Homo sapiens: one gene and its partners. The protein of the gene in region 1 purifies or fractionates together with the protein of each later gene. This does not show direct contact. Each region holds a gene or a part of one and is shown on either strand. Other genes may lie near its edges. The genes, in order: DZIP3, GRIPAP1, MAGED2, TLE3, SMC3, GOLGA5 and LIMD1.

Region 1 (3,500 bases):
CAGGCCTGATTTGACTGGGTGGCTGTGCTTCAGCCTTTTCGTGGAGAGGGGCAGATACCTGGATTTCTATTTAGGTTATGTTGTGATGTTAGACATCCAGGAGAGATTGAGTAGGCTATCAAATTACTGGTAGTTAAAGGAGCGGTCAGGGTTGGAGATAGAAATTGAAAGCCTTGAGACTAAATGATATAGGACCAAGTATGGATAGAAAAGACTTTTTAGGACTGAACTCCCTGATATTTAAGTATTTAGAGGTTGGAGAAGTGTGGAGGAACTGGCAAAGGAGACAGAAGTTAACTGCAAGAAGACACAGGTTCTGTCTTGACGCCATGGTTGCCTACAGGTACCAGCTTTACTTGTAGCATATGAGCTGCCTCTTGACTTCTAAAGGAGAATTTTAGGTTGGCCAAGAAGGCTGTTACAATCTACACACGGGCTCCCTCTTTACATCTGCCTTCAGAGGCCTTGAGGTGTGCAGAAGGGTGGGTGAGTTCATTTTTTAAAGCAATATTGAGTGCTTAACGTGTGCCAGGTGCTATTCTAGGCACCAAGGAATGAAAACAAAGTTTTCCTAACTTCATGGGGCTTATATTCTAGTGGGGACATGAAGCCAAATCTAAAACTGAGGGATTATTCAGTAGACATAAACGGCTGGTAGAACAAAAGTTTCACTGGCCCAGTTTCTAAAGCATGAAATCAGAAATCCTGCAGTAGAAAATTGGCACAGGTCTAGGCATGGGGTCATTTAGATAACCATGTGCCCAATATAGCTAAAATAATTCAAATGCTAATATTAATCTGATTCTACCCCTTATGCAGAGTCAGGAAACTAAGTGTATGATTAGTGTCAACTCATATTTTTCAGAAATGTTACCTTTGTCACAAAGCCAGAAAATCTAAAAAAAATTAATTCTCCTTTTACAATTATTTTTCCTGTTTTCTTTCACAAGTATCAAGTATTACAGTTCAGCTAAACTCTAAATGATTTGCCCAACCATGAAGTTAACTTTCACTTTTCAAACAGTTTCTGCTTTTTCTTTTTATACATTTCACAGCATTCAACTTTAGGTTAAGAGTACAAGGTTTGAATATTTTGAGTATATATTCCCCCATTTTCATATCTTATACCACATCTCAAATCTAATCACATCTATCCCAGAATAAGAATGTTGCCTTGCCTTTTTTTTTTAATGCAAGTACTATCCATTGTTTCTGAATCCAGTGTTAAGTATAAGTAGAGTGTAAGTAAAGATGAAAATGATATACTTTTAAGTTAAGGAACAGTAATCCTGGTAATTACTATTTCTTGAAGACCTATCTTCAAGATAGGTGCAGAGCATGGGTCTTTGCTTATCTCACTTTTAAATTTCTGGTCTTTCAGAAAATAAATACTATCAGGCTTATGAAATGAGTGGATATCTATTTCCTGAATTAAAATGTGAAGCTGTTTTCGAAGACAGTAGTGTCCAGAGTACAGTATGCACACCTCAGGGGATATGTGAAACTGTCCATTGAGGTGTGGGAACAAATATTAAAACGTTTTTTACTTGCTTTTATCTTATTCTTTTTTTATGTTATAATAATTATGCCTGCATATAATTTATAAGTGAATTGATATTCTTATATTTTCAGCATATTCTCAGATCTTTTACTGTTTTAGGGCTATGTGATCAAAAAAGTTTGGAGATTTCATTTTTAAAAATCTTTAACTTTGAGAGATCATTTAGCCAGGTGTGAACTATTGTCCATTTCATTGTTTATTTCAGTACCATGTATAGTATCTGAATTGTTTTGTTGAATAGAAAAACTCTTAGCAAAAACTAGTGTGACTAGTGACTATGAAATATTAGGCTGGCATGATTAATAACTTTTATAGTATTACTAAGAATGTGTAAATAGTTTCATTTCTGAGTATGCATATGTGCATATTATCTAGTCCAGCTCATAATTATACACTAAGCTTATATAAAATTAAATATGTTACTAGAAGTAATGGGACATGGAAGAAAATAGAATTGCAGTTGGTAAAATTTGGGCATGAATTTCTGCTCTTACGGATTTATTAGCTATGAGACTCTATAAGCCTCAGTTTCTTAATTTTTAAAACTTATTACAATAATGTTTATCTTCCATAGTTGTGTAAAGATCAGATGTTTATTCAAGGTGCATAGCTTAGAGCGTGGCACATAGGAGCTGATGAAAATTAAGCTTATTTTCAATGCAACCCAAGGTAATACACTCAGTTAATACTATATGAAAAGAAACTCTTTATAACCAAAAGCTCGCTCTGCCTTCTTACCTACACGCTTCTTACAAATGTATGCTTTTCTGAGATAACAGTGAGCTGCCAATTTTCTTACATGGGGTGGAGCAAGCTGGAGGTGGATAGGGCAAGCTTTCATTGGTGGTGGTAGAGGCAAGTACATGAAAGAAGTATTCCCATTCCCTATTTGATTACCATCTCTGCGTGCGTTATGTCTCAGGATTCTCCCTTCTTTTCTCATTATCTAACAACTATAATGACAACATAATATTTTTAAATTGCTGAAAATATTCCACCTTTGGAGTATGTGCTTAGGGGTAGCATATGCTTCTTCCAGTGGTTTCTAGCTACGTTTCTGAAGAGTGTGGTTTTAGCAGTGCTATCTGTAAATGTTTGAAACTGATGGCTTGTTTAGTATCTGGATAGTTTTTCAGGTAAATCCTAACTTGTGCATATTCATTGTAGGCACATTCCAACTATTCAAAACAAATTAATATGTATACTATAGGTTTACCTGTGTAAGTCCAAAAGTAACTAATTGAATAGATCTGAACAGAATTTAAAACCTGCTTAAGACAAGATGTTAATTTTGCTTTAGGAAAGGATGTTTCCCATGTTGGCAGATTTGTAACAAGGGGTGATGAGTATACATTATAAGGCACTTATTTCCTGGTTTAAGCAGATATATTGCTAACAGTGATCTTTGCAAAGTGGCAAGAGCTAACATAAACAGTGATCTTTTGGGATAGAAAATATCTTCCAGTTTCTGATAACTTTTGCAAAGATTTTTCCACCATCATCCATAAGTTCTGGAGTTTGAATAAGCAAACTGTATGTTCTTTGGGAGCAAATAATATTTTAGCTACTGGTGTCTAGGTGTATTTATTTTGTAGCTTTACCAGGAAGTTAAACAAATTAAAAAATGGAGAAATTAACAGTAAATTATAAAACCAAGTAATCAGTATATTTTGTTCATACTAATTATTGCTAATACAAAATAATGGTGCAACTTGTTAACTTGTTATTCTTTGAGTCTAACCTAATGGCCTCAGCCATTTTTGTCTACACAGAGCTCACTAACATACGAGAAATAAAGACTTTCATAGTGCTGTAACCACAGAACAACTGCACAGTGGACCGAATGTTTGTGTCCCCCCTCATTCAGTGTTGAAATCCTAACCCCCAATGTGATAGTATTAGGAGGTTGGGCCTTTGGGAGATAAATTAGGTCATGAAG
Region 2 (3,500 bases), on another chromosome or scaffold:
GAGAGAGGAACACCATCATGCGAGAGGCACCTTCAGCTCGGCAGCGTGCTGCTCCCGACACTGCTTGAGGGCTTCCTCTTGTTCCTGCTGCTGCTGCTGCAGGGATTCCTACAAGACAAGTCCCAGGTCTGGCCACAGCCCCCCAGAAGGTATCATGCCCAGTTAGGGGTATGAGGGACTGCAATGGGGGCCCAGAGGTATGCAGAAATGACCCTCCTGCAGGGAACCCCACACGCCCTTAGGCAATATGCTGAAGTGTCACATCTAAAGTTGCACCATTCGCATGGTTGACTTAGATTTGCATTTACATTTTATTTTATTTAACAAAACATAGCGCTTACTACATGCCAAGAATGTTCTAAGGGTTTTACATATATTAACTCATTTTCTATAATCCTCCCGTAATACCTAGATGGTAGATATTATTGTTACCCCCTTTTTACCATTGATGAAAACAGGCCACAGAGAGGTCAGATAACTTGCCCAAGGTCACACAGCTAGGAAATGGCCCAGCCAGGATTCAAACCTAGACAAACAACTGGCTCCAGCCTGTGCTCTTCACTGCTACATGACAATGCCTTTCAGTGTATTATGAGATTTCCAGAAAATGGCAACAAAGGTTCTTTTTCCGAGACAGAGTCTCACTCCGTCACCCAGGCTGGAGTACAGTACACGATATCAGCTCACTGCGACCTCTGCCTCCTGGGTTCAAGTGATTCTTCTGCCTCAGCCTCCTGAGTAGCTGGAATTACAGGCGCCAGCCACCATGCCCGGCTAATTTTTGTATTTTTAGTAGAGACAGGGTTTCACCATGTTGGCCAGGCTGGTCTTGAACTCCTGACCTCAAGTGATCCGCCCACCTCGGCCTTCCAAAGTGCTGAGATTACAGGCGTGAGCCACCGCACCCAGCAGGTTCTTGTTCAATAACATCAGTGTATTGCATTAATTTCCTGACAGAAGTACAGTTTCAGGAGAAAGAGGTGCCTTTCCAAATTTGCACAAAGGCAGGGCAGCCTTAACACGTGACAGTCTGTCCTATCTGATGGCCATCCCCTGATCCACTCCAGAGGGCTGCTATTGAGCCAGGGGACTGTGGGGATATCCCTAAGTCCAGAAAATCTCGGGAAGTTCCAGGGCCTGACCACTCCTGCTTCTGTGGTTTGACATGAGGGCCCCAATCAGCCTCTGTTCCTCACCAGGCATCACCAACTCACCTCGGCTTCCTTCAAGCGCCGTTCAAACCAGCCCTTGGCTCCATCCATGGAATGTACCTGAGCTTGAAGTTCTTCCACTGTCTGCTGGAGAGTCTCCAGCTCCCGTGTCCGGGCCTGGGATGGGGCAGACTGTCATGGGCCAGGAAGGCAGAGGAGCGGGCACCTGATGCATGCCACCCACTGGCCTATCAGCAACGCTGTGGTTCCCAGGTTTTAGAGGAAGAAGGGCATCATCATCTACCCACCCACCTTCTCCTCCCGGATCTGCCCACGGAGCTCCTCCTCCTGACGCTTCTTGTCTTCATGCAGCTCTCGGAGCTCACGCTCATAGCGGGCACGCACCCCCAGCACCTCCTTCTCATGCCGTAGACGAACTGCTCCCAGCTCTTCCTTGTGCTGGGACTTCTCTTGCAGCGTTTCCATTGCTAGCTCATCCAGCATGGCCTTCCGCTTCTCCGCACTCTGGGGGCCAGGACGATGGCAGTCAACTTCCTTCCACAACATCGAAAAAAGGCCTCCAACCCTCTTCCCATGCCCAAGGAACTAGCCAAACTCCACTCCCTCCCATCCCCACTGAACTGGCTAAGGCACTCACCCATCCTTATAGAACTGGTCACTTTCTTTCTTTCCCCTCCCACTCTCATGGATTTGGCCAAGAAACTGGTCAACCAGAAACCAGTCAATTTTCCTTTCCCTCCTATCCCCACATGTTTGGTTATATCACCTCCTCCCATCCCCATGGACTGAGCCAATTCCTACCCCCCATCCTCTCCCTTCAACCCTCATGTTCCCCTACCTTCCGAGCCTCCTGTAATTCCTGGGTCAACTGCTCCTTCTCCTGCCCTATTTCTTGAAGTTGTTCCAGCAGTCGACTATTGGCCCGTAATGACTCCTAATGCAGACACCAAAGGGAAAGAGTTTGATAAAGAGCATCCAGTAGGTGCTAGTCACCCAGGACCATCTGGTAGACCATCTCCCTTCTCCCTGGTAAAGTTGGTATTGTGATCTCAATTTCTGGATAGGAAATATAGCAGAGACTGCTAGTTGCTCCCCAGTATTCATTCTTCCTTACTTCCCTAGCAATAAAATTTATCATCGGGCATACAGCTGTCTAGCAGATGTTTCCCCTCCTCCCTTATGGTTAGGTGTGGCCATGTGATTTATTTCTGTATGTGGAAGTGGTGAGTGTAATTTAGGTTATGCTCTTAAAGGAAAGGGGCACACTCTTCCCTGCCCCTTTCCTCCTTCCTTCCAGATAGAATACAAACATGATGGTCGGGGAGTTTCAGCAACCGTCTTGGATGCCAAGATAAAAGTCTTGTGTTGAAGGTGGAGGAACAGCAATGGAGAAAGAACCTGGGTCACAGATGACTGGAAAGCCATCATTCCATCCCTGAATAACCTACCTGGACTTTTAATGAGAGGGAACTAAATTTGTATCTTATTTAATCTACTATTATTCTGGTTTCTATTATGGAATCAGAATGGATATTGCTTGGGAGGCTGAGCCGGGTAGATCTCCTGAGGTCAGGAGTTTGAGAAGCCTGACCAACATGGTAAAACCCCGTCTCTACTAAAAATACAAAATTAGCTGGGCGTGGTGCCAGGCGCCTGTAATCCCAGCTACTCCGGAGGCTGAGGCAGGAGAATCGCTTGAACCCAGGAGGCGGAGGTTGCAGTGAGCTGAGATCGCGCTACTGCACTCCAGCCTGGGCAACAGAGTGAGACTCCATCTCAAAAAAAAAAAAAAAAAAAAAAAAGGAGCCGGGCGTGGTGGCTCACGCCTGTAATACCAGCACTTCGGGAGGCCGAGGCGGGCAGATCACGAGGTCAGGAGATCGAAACCATCCTGGTTAACACGGTGAAACCCCGTCTCTACTAAAAATACAAAAAATTAGCTGGGCATGGTGGCAGGCGCCTATAGTCCCAGCTACTCGGGAGGCTGAGGCAGGAGAATGGCGAGAACACGGGAGGCGGAGCTTGCAGTGAGCCGAGATCACGCCACTGCACTCCAGACTAGGTGACAGAGCAAGACTCCATCTCAAAAAAAAATTAAATTAAATTAAAATTTAAAAAATGAAAAAGAATTGATATCCTAACTAACTGAAGAGGCTCAGTTTCAGAGAAGTGAAATGACTTGTCCCAGAACACACAGGTGCTAATAAGTTAGGGAGCCAGACTGGAACCTAGGTCCTCCTGACTCCAGTCTTCCCACTCCACCTTACTGGGGACTTCACTGGGCCATTACTAGGGAACTAGGAAGAGACAGGCCAGAGCCAAAGGTGT
Region 3 (2,885 bases), on another chromosome or scaffold:
TCCTGGAAGAGATAGGGAGAGGAAAAGGACCACTTGCTTCATCTGGTGACGTTGAGCTTCCTCTCTGTTGATGCAGGTGAAGCATCTGGATGGGGAAGAGGATGGCAGCAGTGATCAGAGTCAGGCTTCTGGAACCACAGGTGGCCGAAGGGTCTCAAAGGCCCTAATGGCCTCAATGGCCCGCAGGGCTTCAAGGGGTCCCATAGCCTTTTGGGCCCGCAGGGCATCAAGGACTCGGTTGGCTGCTTGGGCCCGGAGAGCCTTGCTCTCCCTGAGATCACCTAAAGCCCGTAGGGGCAAGGCTCGCCGTAGAGCTGCCAAGCTCCAGTCATCCCAAGAGCCTGAAGCACCACCACCTCGGGATGTGGCCCTTTTGCAAGGGAGGGTAAGAACTCTGTCGTTTTTATTCTGCCTTTTCTACTGCCTTGGCTGTCCTTTTCTTTGCCATCGTCTCAAGTTTTCTGCAAACTTGTTTTGGTCTTTCCATCTTTTTCTACTCTGCCAGGCAAATGATTTGGTGAAGTACCTTTTGGCTAAAGACCAGACGAAGATTCCCATCAAGCGCTCGGGTAAAGTCCTACCAATCCTCCCTCTGCCCTGAGCTCTGCCCTCCATTGCCCTTACACCATTGTGCTGGGGATATCCCCTGCTCTTATGCTTATGTCTCTGTCCTCCCAAAGTTCTGATTTGGCAGTGCTAGCATCTCTGTTGATAAGCACAGAACCGGGTTATGCCACCCTTGGTGTGGTTGGCAAAGAGTCTATAGCTTGGGCATCAGGGCCACCTGGCATCTCTTCAGTCAGGTGCTCACAACACTCTCCCCTTGCAGACATGCTGAAGGACATCATCAAAGAATACACTGATGTGTACCCCGAAATCATTGAACGAGCAGGCTATTCCTTGGAGAAGGTGAAGGGGCAGCCCTGGGGGATGGGCACAGTGGGGAAGCCTTGAATTGAACAAAAATGTACAAGTCCCTTCTCGGGAACCAAAGAGACCTGCTAATCCAGCTCCATCGCTATGCTGAGGGGCAGACAGTGGCCTAGGGAGGGGTGTAGATTAGCGATGGGTCACACAGCAAGTCAATGGTAAAAGTGCAGCTAGGACCCAAGACACCCAACTTAATCCTGGCTTCTGTCCGTCCATGGCAGCTCCTGCCATGTATTTGAGATTTCACCTCTCCCTTTCATTCCCCATTCTCTGTCTCCCTAGAGTCCCACTCACCACAAAGATGATGATGACAATAGTACATTTGCAGCGTGTTTACCGGGTGCCAGGCACTTAGCTATGTACTTTGTGCGTATTATCTCACTGATTTCTCACACATGCGAAACTCCTAGGTACATAGGGAGCTGCAGCATGCCCCGGAAGCTGAATTTTGTCATCTCACAAGCTGTTCTCCCCATCCACAGGTATTTGGGATTCAATTGAAGGAAATTGATAAGAATGACCACTTGTACATTCTTCTCAGCACCTTAGAGCCCACTGATGCAGGCATACTGGGAACGTAAGCTGGGAAAGGGCTGAGGTGTGGGGGGCTTCTGCTTTGGCCATGTGCTGCTACTCCTCCTTTGTCCTACTTCCCCCATCCTCTTAGAGAGTCAGGAAAGACAGGGTCTCAAAAGCCCCGTCCCAGTTCCTATGCATAGTTGGAGCCCTGCTTACAGTGGTGGCACCTGATTATGATTGACTGGAGGGTGTAGGAGCCTGGAGTGGGACATTCCTGCTGTCAGGTTTGCTGTCTCTGTAGAAGCTTCCCAGGAAAGCAGGCCTGTCGTTGCTTGCCTCTTCCTACTGGGTGCCTGGCCTGGCTTTGGCAGAGTGGTTCTCAAGGAGGGCTTCCTGGTGTGGGTGGATCAGGATGCATGAAGCGCAGGAGTGTCAGTGGGGCTGAAGGTTCTGGGACAGAAAGAAGGGACTCACATTGACTGAGTGCTTGTGTTGTACCAGGTTGGCAGCCATTCTTCCATCTTCTTGGAAACCCAGGGAAGGGAAAATATGATTTTTTCTATTTTACTGAAGAGTAGACTGAGGCTTGCAAGTCTAAGTGCCTTGCCAAGGGTGGCATAGAGCTGGAAGCAGAGACTGGGTAGAATTCTGTATCTGAGGAATCTGGGAGAGGCTAGCCTAGTGAGTTGGCTGGTGTGTCTGTTGCAGATGGCTGCTGAACATAAACCTCTCTGTCCTGTTATTTCTCTAGGACTAAGGACTCACCCAAGCTGGGTCTGCTCATGGTGCTTCTTAGCATCATCTTCATGAATGGAAATCGGTCCAGTGAGGGTGAGTGGCTGGGCTTGCAGCTGAATGGGTGGCTGTGGTCTAGATTCCATGTGTTCAATTTCTGTCCCTGTCTCCTCTTGCCTCCCCTCGCAGCTGTCATCTGGGAGGTGCTGCGCAAGTTGGGGCTGCGCCCTGGGTATGATTGGGCTCTCTCAGCGCTTGCTGTCCGTGTTGTCCTTTGGCAAGAGAGGACGGTCCTAGGATTGCATCAGTCTGGTGGTCTGGTGGAGCGGGTGGGGTGCTGGACTGGGTAGAGGGCCCAGGGTTCTGACCTGGGTGGATGATGGGTGAATGGTCCTGAACTCTCTGCTCCCTCTCTCAGTGTCTCTTGGGCTTCTATGGAGCTTCCCTCTTGTGCTGGAAACCTCTTTTCCATCTTGGAAATGCCTCTGCCCACATCTGGGAAGTGCCATAGCCTTGAGTGAATTTATTTGTTTATTTATTTTTCTTTTTCTTCTCTCAGGATACATCATTCACTCTTTGGGGACGTGAAGAAGCTCATCACTGATGAGTTTGTGAAGCAGAAGTAAGTATCTCTGTCTGGTGTTCATGTGTCCCATGCATTTGGCCTATTTCAGAACTGAGTGATAAAGCCGTGGTGCATG
Region 4 (3,500 bases), on another chromosome or scaffold:
TGCTCAGAAATCCAGGACCACATTTGGGCTGAGGAATGGCTAGGTACCTAAGAGAGGAGTCATTGAAGCTGAAAATCCATGTTCACTGCCTCGGTACTGATCCTCTAACAGTGGCATTTTTTCGGAGAGGCAGTTTGCCTAGATAGGCGGAGGCCTGGATTGGACATTTTAAGGCTGAGGTCTGGTCCCAGCTTTATGAGGCCCTGTGTAGTTCTCTTGGCCTCTCTGAGCCTCAGTTTCCTTATCCATACCATGGGAATAATTCCTGCTTGACCAACCTCTCAGCTTTGTTTCGGAAGACCCTTTATAACCTGACTGAGGATCCAGATTACCTGGCTAGCAGGGACCCACTTCAGTGGAATTGGAGGGGGAGTGGGAAGCCCAGCACTCTCTAAAGAGCATGAGTCTTTACCTCATCCTCATCCCTATTGGCTTCTGGCTTTGTGCCCCATCTGTGAAAGTTTTCTGCTAAAAGACCCCCCCTGGGAACCCCCAAGAGCTGGGCTGTTTACCATGCTCGCTGAGGTCCATGCATGGCACACATGGGCCTCAGGAAACTCCAGTGGGAATGAATCAAGATGCTGGGCAGAGGCAGCAGTGGGCAGGGCCGAGGCTGTGCGCATGGCATGTGGCGTGGTGACGGTGTCAGCGGCGGTGTAGACTGAAATAATCAGGCTTTGGAAACCAGGTTGTCAACAGATGAGGCCTACGGCAGGAAGGACAGGGCTGTGTCAGAGTGGGAGGGGGGATGGGGGGACGGGCTGGAAGCTGTCCCAGAGGGGTTAGTCTGGAGTCCAATTAGTGGTAGCTTCATTCATATTTCCTTGCCTAGCCGAAGCAATAAAAAATACTTAGTTTTTTGGCCGCCTGCCAGCCAGAGGCGGGCTGGATCGATGCCGCTAAATGCCTGACATGACTCTCCGGTAGCGGCGAGGGTTTTCAGCCTGACTGCATGAGAAGAAAGAGCTCGCTGTTCTCCCGAGCCGAGCACCGGGTCGCGAGGAGAAACACGAGCAGCCGCACGCCCCCTCCCCTGCCCGCCCGCCTGCAAGGGGCAGCCAGTGCGAGGGGCTGGAAGCATTTCTGCTTAGCACAGGGTGGCCACCACCGTCAGAGGAAATGAAATGAAATGACGGTGATTTTTCTGCCGGCGATTGCAGCAGCTAATTGAATTGTGGCTGTGCGCGCATCGCCACCGCTCCTGCACGGCTGTGGGGAAGGTTGAGCTGCAGTTCCATTATAACCTCCATTTTTTCTTCAAGGCTTGATAACTCTGCCATTTTAATTTGCTTCGGGCAGAAACTTGGCCGGGTAGGGCTGCCCAGAACCCGGCTTAGGAAAGGAAATTAAGTTCTGAGGCTGGTTGCCGCACTATTCCCACCGAATACTGCCCAGCCCCGTTCCCTCCAAGTGGCCCTTGCCCCTGAGCCACGCTTGGCCTCTGGGAAAGTGGAGAAGAGAAGGGAAGCCTCATTCCACTTGCCTTCTGATGCTCTTCTCTTCTGAACAGATGTCCCTCTGGGTCTCCATATGACCTCCTGTGTTGCATGGGGACTGGGACCTGGGATGGCCTGTCCTTTTCTTCCAGCTCCATCATAGCTGGACCATGAGCTCCTGGAGGGCAGGGATTGTATCTCATTCATTCTGCCACTCCTGGCCTGCAGCACCAGGGCTGACCCAGGGCAGCTGCTCGGAAATTGGTGGGTGGGTGAAGGTAAAGTTTGGACTCTTAGAAAGGAGTAAACCTCACCAATATCATAGAGGGGCATTGGTCCTGATATTAGTCTCTGGGCACAGAGGTTTGCTGGCAGGTGCCCTTGCCAGTTGCACTTCCCTCCCTGCTCCCCAGCTCGGTGGTAACAGCCACATGGTGATTTCTGACCACTATCAACCCCTAGGACTACTCCGTCATCTTCCCTCTTCCCAGGCCTCCCATCCCAAAGGCTTCTCATCCTCATTTGCTTTATAGTTGAGGGAGAACTCACGAAATTTTGGGGTTCCCTTTGTGCCACCTTCTGCTAGGGGAGCTTGGGCACATTCACCAACCTCTTGGGGTCTCCACTTGGTGATGGCTACAGAGGCAGTGACTGTCCCTGCCCTTGCTCCTTTCCCTGTCTGTCAGAGGGAAAGGCTTCATGACGTGGCATTTTTGTTTTTTTTACAACCCTGGTGTTTCTCCAGAGTTGCTGACAGCCTCACCGTGGAGGCGGGGGTGTTCACACAGAACGCTTGGCTGCTCATCTCCACTGGGAAGTTGGTGGCTGCCTGACGCCCTCCTTCCCTATCAATCTCCCCATTCCTGTCGGGCTCAGCAAATGAAGTATTGCTCATGGCCCCTGCCTGTCAGCTCAGATCCATCTTACAAGACTCAGTGCAAATTCCACTTATCCCTCCTTTGAGCAAATGAGTGTGGCAAGCGCGAGATGGGTGGTGAATGAGACCCAGGTGACCCTCGCCCTCACAGAGCGTAGTCCCACAGGCCAGAAGGCAGACGGCTTACTGCAGGGTTAATTATTTAATAGCAGTGCAGAGCTGCAAAAGAGAATTGGGGATGCGCCCAGGGCATCTCCCCGGGGACTCAGTCTCAGGGGAGTGGGGAAGGCTTCCCTGGCAAGGCTCTGATGGAGCCACGATCTGCAGGGCAGAGAGGAGTTCAGCTTCTCTTCCCTCCCCTGACCTCCGTGTCACCTGCACTTAGCTGTGTGCGGATGTGTGAATTGTTACACGCAGCAGAAAGTTTTAACCCCGAACCCTCTTTTTCCTTCCAGAATAACTCTGTGTCACCCTCGGAAAGCCTCCGGGCCAGTGAGAAGCACCGGGGCTCTGCGGACTACAGCATGGAAGCCAAGAAGCGGAAGGCGGAGGAGAAGGACAGCTTGAGCCGATACGTACGTCCAAGGCGCCATGGCACCACTGGGGTTTCTGTTGGGTAGGGCAGGGGGTGTCTGCAGGGCCCAAGCTGTGGCCAGGGTCTTCTTGTGGTTGGCAGTGAGTCAGAGAAGCACAGGTTGGCGATAGGGGACCCTATTGAGGAGAGCAGGGTGGGAACAGGGCTAGGGTGAAGTTCACACACGCTATGAGCATGCGAGCCACTGTGGGGCGGAGGTGGATGGGGAGGTCGTCCTAGCCTCCATGGGGTCTCTTCCCACAGACAGGCCAACAACCCCATGCTGCTGTCATGGTGCTGCCGGAATCCCACTTGGCTCTAAGGGGCTGCTCCCAGTGACCCCCAAAATGTGGACCCTATAGTCCTCTCAGTTGGCCTGAGGCATGCACTCACTTGGCCACCCAGTCATGGCTTTTACTAGCCTTTTAATGGGATGCCCCCGGCACGTGAGACCCTAGTGGAAGCATGGCTGTTGTGTTTCCCCTGTGTCAGGCTGTGCAGGGCTGAGAGCTGGGACAGAGGGAAGGGGAGGATATGGTGCAGGGCCTCAGCGGTCTTGCACCCAGCCCTCTTCAGCCACATGGCTGCTGTGTGGCTTTGGACACATTGAGCA
Region 5 (3,500 bases), on another chromosome or scaffold:
TTGCCCAGGATGGTCTCCATCTCTTGACTTCATGAGCTGCCCACCTCGGCCTCCCAAAGTGCTGGGATTACAGGTGTGAGCCACCGCGCCCGGCCAATCTAAGATTTTGTGACTCAGTAGTAACATTGACTTTTTGTCAGTGGAATTAGTAGTAACATTGACTTTTGTCCATTAAAATTTTGGACAAAAAGTCAGTGTTACTACTGAGGATGAATAATTGTCAGTACTCTGTGGGAATATTTACAATTACTTTGATATCTGACAATAATTAGTTATAATACAAACAGATGAATGTAATTACTTTATGAAGCAGTTTGAAGCCCTTCCCCTGAAGGATGATCTTCAGCTTTATTTTGCTTGTCTTATTGCTTCCCAGTAAGGCAAGGATTTTTGTTTGCTTTGGTCTTTTATGATTCCCCAGCTCTTCTAAGAATGCCTGGTACATACTGGGGTTTTGGTAACTTCACTAAGTGGATGAAGTGTCAGCTTCCTTAAACTCTAGCCAGTGAGGCTATTGGATTTTTTCAGCTCAGTATAGTCTACTAAATTAATGAATACAGTTCATTAATTCTCCTTAAGGAAACAGCATCTTACGTTAGGTTCTTAGAGATTTGTTATAGGTTCTGCCAAGATTTTTAACTCATTTTTCTTGAATGTAAAATAGTTGAAAATAGTTTTTGTGTTCTGTTGTGTGTGTGTGTAGAGGGGGCAGTATGAAAGTATATAATGGACTATTATGAGAACTTAGAATTTTTTTTCTAAAATTCTGGAGTGTATATTATAGAAATAGGAAGATTTAGATCACTAATGAACAAATTAACTTTTAGCAACATGTTTTATAGTATTTAATGGTTTGTGTTTTCTGGTGTGGTATGCTCTTTTGCCTAAAGACAACTTTTAAAAACTGAAATGGGGCCGGGCGCAGTGTCTCACGCCTGTAATCTCAGCACTTTGGGAGGCCGAGACGGGCGGATCATGAGGTCAGGAGATCGAGACCATCCTGGCTAACACGGTGAAACTCCGTCTCTACTAAAAATACAAAAAACAAAAAAAACAAACTGAAATTGGATTTTTCAACAGCATCATTGAGGTATAATTCACATACAGTAAATTGTACATATTTAGTGTACATCATTTTTCCTAGTCAGGAAAGTGGCAAAAATAAAGTATATAATTTGATGAGTTTTGACATACGTATACATCTGTAAAACACCACACAGTTAAGACACCACACACCACAGTTAAGACAATAAACACGTTTATTACCCAAAAGCGTTTTCCATACCCCTTTGTAATTCCTCCCTCACCTTTTGTCCGCCTCCCCCATCCATCTGCAACCACTGATCTGCTTTCTATCAGTGTAGATTAGTTTCATGAAATTGAATTTTAAATTTATTTTTATTTCCATAGAAACTGGACCAGGATCTTAATGAAGTCAAAGCTCGAGTAGAAGAACTGGACAGAAAATATTACGAAGTAAAAAATAAGAAAGATGAACTACAAAGTGAAAGAAAGTTAGTATAGACTAAAATGTGCATTAATGTTTTCAGTAATGTTCGTTACTAGCTGTTATGTGGTCTTTAAGTTACAAGTTAACCGGTCAGGCTTGTTTTCTGTATTTTGATTCTAAACTGTATACTGTTAATGCATCCTCATATGTGTTTAAAATTAAAGACAGTCTACTTTTTATTTATTAGCTACTTGTGGAGAGAAGAGAATGCAGAACAGCAAGCACTTGCTGCTAAAAGAGAAGATCTTGAAAAGAAGCAACAACTTCTTAGAGCAGCAACAGGAAAGGTGGGCAGGTTCTTTTCATCACCTCTGTTTACACTGAGTCATTGAGTTAATCGTTATGTAATAATTTTTTACCTTTCAAGGTGTAGGTCATGGGTTCCAAGTGATAAATAGGAGTCCAAATTATCTTCTAAATATGAAATGATAGAGATTAAATAGTTTTATTACTACACATACTATTAATAGCACTTTTGATGTTCAGATAAAGAGCCCATTTTTAACACTACTGTTATGGAACAGAGCCTATCATATAAGGTGTTACATGTAGTTGGCATATTGTGAGGAGGTGATGTGTTTGTTGGAGAGGATGTTTAGTTTAATCACTGGTATATTTTTAAAATGTATGGTGTTGTGGGCTCATTCCTTACCAGGAGTGCCATTGATGATATTATTTTAATATTTTTCATTTCTGACAACTTACAGGCCATTTTAAATGGAATAGACAGCATAAACAAAGTGCTAGACCACTTCCGTCGAAAAGGAATAAACCAGCATGTTCAAAATGGCTATCATGGTATTGTAATGAATAACTTTGAATGTGAACCAGCTTTCTACACATGCGTGGAAGTCACTGCTGGAAACAGGTTAAAGCTTTTGCTTGATATTTAGCATTTTTAGAAGAGGGAATAAGAATAGCTTAAACAACTTTTGTAGTTTTTGTACAACATATCTTCCATTATCTTTTTATATCTCGGTTCCTTAACTTTCTAATTAAAGAAGTAGATGCTAAGTATTTGTTCCTAATTATAGAAGCTAGAACTTTCCTCTTTTGGGAGTTTCTCCCTCCCCGCCATTGGAATTTTTAAAGTAGTCTTATTTTCCAAAATTATTTGGATTATATAGGAAAAAACTGTTTGATGCTTAAGTGTTTATAACATTTTAAAAGTGCACACCTTTAGTCCCAGCTATGCAGGAGGCTGAGGTGGGAGGATTGATAAGTTTGGGCAACATAGGGAGACCCTGAGTACCAATAAAGATTTGTCTTACTCTGTTTATATTTAGGTTATTTTATCACATTGTTGATTCAGATGAAGTCAGCACGAAGATTTTAATGGAGTTTAATAAAATGAATCTTCCTGGAGAGGTTACTTTTCTGCCTCTTAACAAGTTAGATGTCAGGGATACAGCCTATCCTGAAACCAATGTGAGTCATTGTGTGATAAGGTGTATTTCTCTTTTATAATGTTATTTTTTATCACATAATCTAACACATGCTAGTGCCCAGGCACTATACACTGGGATTCAGTGGTGTATGAGATAAAAATATCTGTCTTCCCATGGACCTTAGTGCTGAGTGGGTTTTGGGGAGGGAGACAGAAGTCACAGCTATGATTGGTGTGGTGATGCACGCCTGTAATCCCAGCTACTTGGGAGGCTGAAGTGGGAGGATCATTTAAAAAGAAGAGAAAAAAGCTAAGATATGAAACAAATCATTGCAAATGTGCAGTGTTAAAAGCGTAAGTACAGGATACTTTGAGAGCATATCTGGGAGTGACATAATTAAGGTTAGGGAGTTGGAGAAAGATTCCCAAGGAACTGTCATGTATAGTTTAAAAGTGTCTTGACGTACTTAGGATTAAATGAAAAAAATGGCTAGTAAGGTGATAGACTTCGGAAGCATAACATTGCTTTTGTTGGTAACAAAAGTGCACTTTAGGTGGATTAAAAATATTCTTCAGACACCATTCTTAGAACAGTGTAATTGC
Region 6 (3,500 bases), on another chromosome or scaffold:
GGGAAAGGCCTTGGATGGCTATATTTTTAACAAACTTCCTGGTTGATTTTAATGCATTGCCATGTTTGGGAGTTACAACTTTACATTTCCTATACTTTAGCTCCTAACAAATTAAGAATTTTTTCCCATCCCTACTATGTTGTTTGGCTGAGCTAATAAATCCCATAAGATATCCGAATGGATGGTTGTAAAATATGTTTCAAAGCTAAATGATATCATTAATTATGATATAAAAATTTGTCACAGAGCGAGTTTGCTGCACGCCTTAATAAAGTGGAAATGGAACGTCAGAATTTAGCAGAAGCAATTACACTGGCCGAAAGAAAATACTCAGATGAGAAGAAGAGGGTTGATGAACTGCAGCAGCAAGTCAAGCTGTATAAGTTGAACTTGGAGTCCTCTAAGCAGGAATTAATTGACTACAAGCAAAAAGCTACTAGAATACTGCAAGTAAGCATGAAATGTACACTTTTGGATGTTAAGATGTGCAAGTTAACTGAAAGGCAATTTGAGACTGTGTAGATACTGTGTGAGGTGCTTTGTTCATGTTCGTCTGATTGGCTAGCTTTAGGTGCCTTACTCTACTTTAGAAATTTTATTAAAGGATGCAGTGTTTCTTGTTCCTACCACTTCTTTTAAAAAAAAAATTCATTCTGCCACTGCCTAGTTCAGGTCTTCAACCTGTCACCTTACTCACTGTGATGATATTAATGCTTGTTGTTGAGCAGCTGTTTATTCTTCCTTGTTGATCTCCTATTGAATTTTTGCAGCAACTGCTTTAGGACTCATCCAGTTCTCAGAATTGTCTCACCCAGCTTTTTTTCCCCTCCTTCAGATCTAAGGTGATCTTACCCTCTACTTTACTAAGAAAGACTACAGTCATCTAATGTCGTTTTTGAATTCTCTTTCCTTTGTCCCTCAGAGGGAAAACATGTCCTTTCATTTTTTTCTAGGATCATTTTCCTGCCTGTGCATTGATTCCATCTCCCATCTCATGTGTAAGCCCTTTCTCCATAGATCTATGCCCTTCCTTCCTGTGTGTGCCTCTCTGCTGCTGCTGCCTTCTGGCTCAGCTTACTCAAGAGCACATGGTTATTTAGTGGAAAAATGAAGACTAGATCTCGGACTCCTGCCTAAGAGAAAAACAGTCTCTTTTAGCTTTGTGACCACTTTGCACTATTTCCCTATCTTCCTTTCTTTCAGTGTCATGCTTACCAGAATTGTGTACGTGCTGTCTTCATTTCTGTAGAACTTGTTAACTCTTATCTCCTTCTTTTCCTACTACATGTCTGAAATTTCTTCTCAAAAATATTTGATGACCTAAATAAATATTCTCTGTCCTTTTCTTAGTCTCCATACCTTGTATTTTGGTAGAACATTTGGCTCTGTTAACCCTCCCACTTCCTTGGAACTCCTGCCTTCTATGCTATTCACATCTCCTTGGCTCTCTTTTTGTCCTCTTCTACTGCTGTTTCTGTCTCTCTTGGGCGCTCTTCCCAATCTCCAAAGAGTCAGAGTCCTCCTAAGCTCTGTCCTGAACCCTCTTTCATTGTCCTTTCTTACCTTGCACTGCTGTATGCTGCCTCTGCTTCTAATAGCCGCCTGCATATGACTTCAAGCATGTTTCCAAGCCTGACCTCCTGACCTCAGTGCCCAGCTGCCTACTGTGCAGGCATGGAGTGTTCAGCTCCCAGACCAACTTCTCCCTCATTCTTCTGTTCTGGTCAACGTTACTGCCATGTGGCAGTAAAGCTTGAAACCTCAGGGTCATTTTTGACTTTACCTTTTTTCTTTAGTCTCAAACTTCTAATGGCTATGAATACCTTTTTTTAATGCTACTTCCATGAAGTATCATATTGATCTCCTCCTCAAACTCTTCTTTCTAAGTACTTTTTTGTATCACCCTAATTTGTTAATTCATTGAAAAGTTACTTATTGAGCACCTAACTACTCACTAGGCACAGAGGATACAAAGCTCAAAAGATGTGTCCTCTTCCTTTAAGAAAACATTCATCTTAGTGGAAAGAAACAGATAATTGACGTAATAAGGTTATTAATGCAGTACAATGGGAGCTTGAGAGAAGAATCCCTTAAAACTTGCCTGAGGCTGTCAAAGATCACTGGACTGAGGAGATGTGGTATAAAGAGAAACTTGAAAGATGAATAGGAAGACTCATGATAGGGAAGAGATTTCCGAGAGAACAACCTGTGCCAGAGCAAGGGGGCCAGAGAGAACATGGCATATTTAAGGGACTGCAGCTAGTTCCATACTGCTGGAACATAACGTCTTCAGAGATGGGAGGCAAAAGACTCATAAAGTTCAACGGCAGGCAGAAGCCATGGTCAGGTTTGAGTGTGAGAACTGTGGCAGCCTGATGAAAAGGTTAGGGGAGATTTGGGCCTCTGTCTTGTTCATCGTTGTATCCCCAGCACAGTGCCTGGTATTCGGTACATTGTTGAAAACATGGAAGTGATAAGGGGTGGCATCAATGGCATGTAGATGGTGAAGAGGTGATCATAAGAAATAATGAGGACCTGATCAAAGTTTTTGGCAGTGAGGATGGCAGGCAGGGGACAGCTAAGAGATATGTGGGAGATAGAATATATGACATGTGGAGATTTAACTGGAAGGATGGGGGAAAAAGGCAAATGGAATCCAGGATGACTCCAGGTTTTTGGTTTAAGTGTATGAATGATGTTTCCTTGTGTTAATAAAAGGGGAAACAGGAAAGAGAACAGGTTAGGGTTAAAGGAGAGTATGACGAATTATGGTAAGTATGCAAAATTGATGCAACATTGAGGTGACAATGTTAGAAAGGTAATTAGAAGTAAGTTGGGAGAGTAGGTAAGTTTAGGCAAGAGCGATGTGTAACCTAACGGGGAGAAAGGCTGAGGTCTAAAAACACAGTCTTAAACATCAGCATTTACAAATTGGGCAAAAGGATAGCCTGCAAAAGAAAAATACTGAGAAGGTGAGTGGTCAGAGATTGGAGAGAACCAGGAGGAGACTGATGCCATCCAATGAAGCCAAGCAGAGGGAGAGTTTCAAGTGGTGCATGATCACCAACCACAGCACGCGGCTCTGATGTGACAAGTCCCGAGCTAAATTCCTGGACTTGGCAACTAGGAGGTCCCTGGGGACCTCTCAACAGAGAGTTCCGGGGTGCGCTGGGAGCTGAAGACATGGAGGCAGGGTACTTGACCATGGACATGAGGACAGTAGCTAGATGGGGGAATGAGGTTGGGAGGTTTCTGGTTTTTTATTAAAAAAAATCTTAAAATGTTATAAATGATCATGTTTATTATAGAAAATTTGAAGAATACAAAAGAAGTTTGAAGAAGGAAATGGAAATAACCCATAATCCTACCACCCAGAAAAGGAAAAATTATTTTTGATGGAGGAGAATGACTTTAAAATATTTTAATTTAACGTGAAAGCTGCTGGTCCTTGTTGTTCCTAGTCTAGAATTAGGACTTTATAAACTGGTCTTTGCATGTCA
Region 7 (2,545 bases), about 63 Mb from region 1:
TGGTGTCTATTCTTACCAGATGTATAAAAATGTGAGAGGCCTTGGAGAATCATATCCCAAGAATCAGCAGTTTCTTTTACTGGACCTTTAAGATTGAGACTTGTAAGGTCCTGATGCAGTGACTTGTAAGGTCACTTTGTCTCTCTTGTGAATGTTACTGTTTTTTCTCTTCTGAGGTTATGACCAAAGAATCCTCAAGGCGAGTGATCCTTCAGGTTTGAGACAGCCACATGCAGGAAGACAGGACTTGTAGAGTGTTGGGGCCAAGTGTGTGGTTAGAATCCTTGGGGTGGGGAAAGAGTTTGTTCTAGACTCCAGTGTAGTCCTTGTGGCTACCAGGTCTGACGTGCCAAGGACACGGGAAAGCTGGGAGTGAGGATACTCATAGTCATAGCACCTTACACCAGAATAAAAGTTTTTTTTTTCTTTTTAAGTGATGAGAGAATGGCTAGTCTGATTTTGCCAACATGGGCTGCTATTTGCTTAAGACCTTGATGGTATAAGGAGTGAAGATGCAATCAGGGTAAAAGGCGGTCTGGAGTTGTGGTGTGCTGGCAAACCAGCCCTCTGGGGCAAAAAATTAAAAAGCCTTGATATGGAGTGTTTGCTGATACCTATGATGTAAATATTCCCGCCATGGCCACTTTCCAGCTACCAGCAAGGCATCCTGGCACCAGGGATTGGGAGGAGATGGCATAGTCCTAAGAGTCAGCCTTGGGCATTGGGCCATGTGGGACTGGGCAGTGGGGTATCTGGTCTGGTTCTAAGTGCTGTGATGAAGCAGTAGCAGCTGTAATAGCTGGCATTTCCCGTGTGCTCATCACATAGCAGATGTTATTCCAAGGACTGTATGTTCTTTATCATCCCTCATTTGATAGACAAGACAACTGAGACACAAAAGGGTGAAATAAACAGTAAGTACTCCATCCCAGGCCATCTCATCCAGAGGGTGCTGTCTTGACCACTCTACTACTCTGGTTGATGGGAGGCAGTAAATTGTCCATCAGTATACTTCTTCATCAAAGCTACATAGTCAAAAAGCCACAGGAGGCTGTGAGGAGAAGCTCACTGCTGCTCTGTTGAAGTCTGTATTGGTTTCCTATGGCCACTCTTAACAAATTACCACAACCTCAGTGGCTTAAAACAACACAAATATATCATTCTGTCATCCTGGACACGAGCCAAAGGTTGTCGGCAGAAGCGAATTGCTTCCAGAGGTGCTATAGGGTGCTGCCCATTCCTTGCCCCTTTTCCGCTTCTAGAGGCTGCCCATTTTCCTTGGCTTGTGGCTGCATCATTCTGGCTGCTTCTATTGTCACACCTCCTCTCTGACCCTCCCTGCCTCCTTGTAAGGACACTTGGGATTACGCCCATCCAGATAATCTAGAATAATCTCCCATTTTGTGATTCTTAATAACATCTGCAAAGCCTCTTTTACCTTGCAGAATAAGATATTCACAGGTTCTGGTGAGGAGGACAGGGACATCTCTGAAGGGGAGGGAAGCAGGAGATAGGGTCTGGAGGCATGGAATTGGCTTCCTAAGGCCAATTCAGGCTGACTTCCTAGAACTAAGTCAAAAGGAAAACCCCAACTTTCCACGCTCAAGTAACAAAAGGACCAGAGGCTACTCCCTTTGCAACCTCCCCACCCCCAGCCCCTTTTCTGCATGGCAGGTGAAAAATTGAAAGTATCGCTAATTGATCCCCTCCCACAACCAATCAGACTGGTCTTAGGCCAAGTCTTCATTTGCCTAGGAGTATAACTTTGTAACTTCAGCCTCTGATTGGGCGTTTTACACAACCAGTCAGATGTTTGTATAGGGTGGTGTAACTTTGTAACTTTGCTTCAGCCTCTGATTGGTCCCCTCCCACAACCAATCAAACTGATCATGGACCTCTGCTTCATTTACATAGGGTGTACACCAAGTAACCAATGGGAAACCTCTAGAGGGTATTTAAATCCCAGAAAATTCTGTAACCGGGTTCTTGAGCTGCTTGGGCTGCTCCCACCCTGTGGAGCGTACTTTCGTTTTTCAATAAATCTCTTTTGTTGCTTCATTCTTTACTTGCTTTGTGCGTTTTGTCCATTTCTTTATCAAGACGCCAAGAACCTGGACACCCTCCACCGGTAACAGGAGGAGCATTAGTCAGCCTACCACAGACTCCAACGAACGTTTTTTGAGAGGAAATGAAAGAATATTCCTAAGTTATTGGGTGCCTTTTCTTCAGGAATCCCTGAAAGTGGGGGTTTGCAATTTTCCCTGGATTGAAAACAGAAATGCTTCCTACACAAACATGATTGAGACCTTGTACTCTAGGTGTAAAAAAACAGAGTAGGTCATACTCTGTGGGTTATGGTCAGAGAGATCTGGTTAGAAGTTCCCAGGTAGGCGACAGCCCTAGATGTGTGACACTTCTAGGAGAATCTCTGGCTATGTGGATACGTCCAGGTGTGTAAGGCAGCCTCAGGGACTGCCACCACTTGGTCACATACATGTCCCTCCAACTAATCCTAGCTCTCAAGGACAGGTGGTTCTGGGCCCTG

Evidence for each region.
Region 2: the proteins of DZIP3 (region 1) and GRIPAP1 purify together in Homo sapiens (affinity purification with mass spectrometry, with the first as the bait; one large-scale study listed by BioGRID). This does not show direct contact.
Region 3: the proteins of DZIP3 (region 1) and MAGED2 purify together in Homo sapiens (affinity purification with mass spectrometry, with the first as the bait; one study listed by BioGRID). This does not show direct contact.
Region 4: the proteins of DZIP3 (region 1) and TLE3 purify together in Homo sapiens (affinity purification with mass spectrometry, with the first as the bait; one study listed by BioGRID). This does not show direct contact.
Region 5: the proteins of DZIP3 (region 1) and SMC3 purify together in Homo sapiens (affinity purification with mass spectrometry, with the first as the bait; one study listed by BioGRID). This does not show direct contact.
Region 6: the proteins of DZIP3 (region 1) and GOLGA5 purify together in Homo sapiens (affinity purification with mass spectrometry, with the first as the bait; one large-scale study listed by BioGRID). This does not show direct contact.
Region 7: the proteins of DZIP3 (region 1) and LIMD1 purify together in Homo sapiens (affinity purification with mass spectrometry, with the first as the bait; one study listed by BioGRID). This does not show direct contact.

What each region holds. Positions count from the first base shown.
Region 1 is NC_000003.12:108,596,222-108,599,721, forward strand, and holds part of DZIP3 (E3 ubiquitin-protein ligase DZIP3), read left to right. Parts: intron 1-3,500. UniProt on the Homo sapiens protein: E3 Ubiquitin ligase proteins mediate ubiquitination and subsequent proteasomal degradation of target proteins.
Region 2 is NC_000023.11:48,981,765-48,985,264, forward strand, and holds part of GRIPAP1 (GRIP1-associated protein 1), read right to left. Parts: intron 2,107-3,500; coding exon 2,011-2,106; intron 1,677-2,010; coding exon 1,464-1,676; intron 1,329-1,463; coding exon 1,215-1,328; intron 109-1,214; coding exon 31-108; intron 1-30. UniProt on the Homo sapiens protein: Regulates the endosomal recycling back to the neuronal plasma membrane, possibly by connecting early and late recycling endosomal domains and promoting segregation of recycling endosomes from early endosomal membranes.
Region 3 is NC_000023.11:54,810,745-54,813,629, forward strand, and holds part of MAGED2 (melanoma-associated antigen D2), read left to right. Parts: intron 1-76; coding exon 77-385; intron 386-505; coding exon 506-569; intron 570-829; coding exon 830-909; intron 910-1,412; coding exon 1,413-1,507; intron 1,508-2,200; coding exon 2,201-2,280; intron 2,281-2,373; coding exon 2,374-2,416; intron 2,417-2,743; coding exon 2,744-2,806; intron 2,807-2,885. UniProt on the Homo sapiens protein: Regulates the expression, localization to the plasma membrane and function of the sodium chloride cotransporters SLC12A1 and SLC12A3, two key components of salt reabsorption in the distal renal tubule.
Region 4 is NC_000015.10:70,059,918-70,063,417, reverse strand, and holds part of TLE3 (transducin-like enhancer protein 3), read left to right. Parts: intron 1-2,768; coding exon 2,769-2,888; intron 2,889-3,500. UniProt on the Homo sapiens protein: Transcriptional corepressor that binds to a number of transcription factors. Inhibits the transcriptional activation mediated by CTNNB1 and TCF family members in Wnt signaling.
Region 5 is NC_000010.11:110,588,195-110,591,694, forward strand, and holds part of SMC3 (structural maintenance of chromosomes protein 3), read left to right. Parts: intron 1-1,410; coding exon 1,411-1,514; intron 1,515-1,697; coding exon 1,698-1,797; intron 1,798-2,217; coding exon 2,218-2,378; intron 2,379-2,796; coding exon 2,797-2,938; intron 2,939-3,500. UniProt on the Homo sapiens protein: Central component of cohesin, a complex required for chromosome cohesion during the cell cycle. The cohesin complex may form a large proteinaceous ring within which sister chromatids can be trapped.
Region 6 is NC_000014.9:92,811,305-92,814,804, forward strand, and holds part of GOLGA5 (golgin subfamily A member 5), read left to right. Parts: intron 1-246; coding exon 247-450; intron 451-3,500. UniProt on the Homo sapiens protein: Involved in maintaining Golgi structure. Stimulates the formation of Golgi stacks and ribbons. Involved in intra-Golgi retrograde transport.
Region 7 is NC_000003.12:45,681,751-45,684,295, forward strand, and holds part of LIMD1 (LIM domain-containing protein 1), read left to right. Parts: 3' UTR 1-2,545. UniProt on the Homo sapiens protein: Adapter or scaffold protein which participates in the assembly of numerous protein complexes and is involved in several cellular processes such as cell fate determination, cytoskeletal organization, repression of gene transcription, cell-cell adhesion, cell differentiation, proliferation and migration.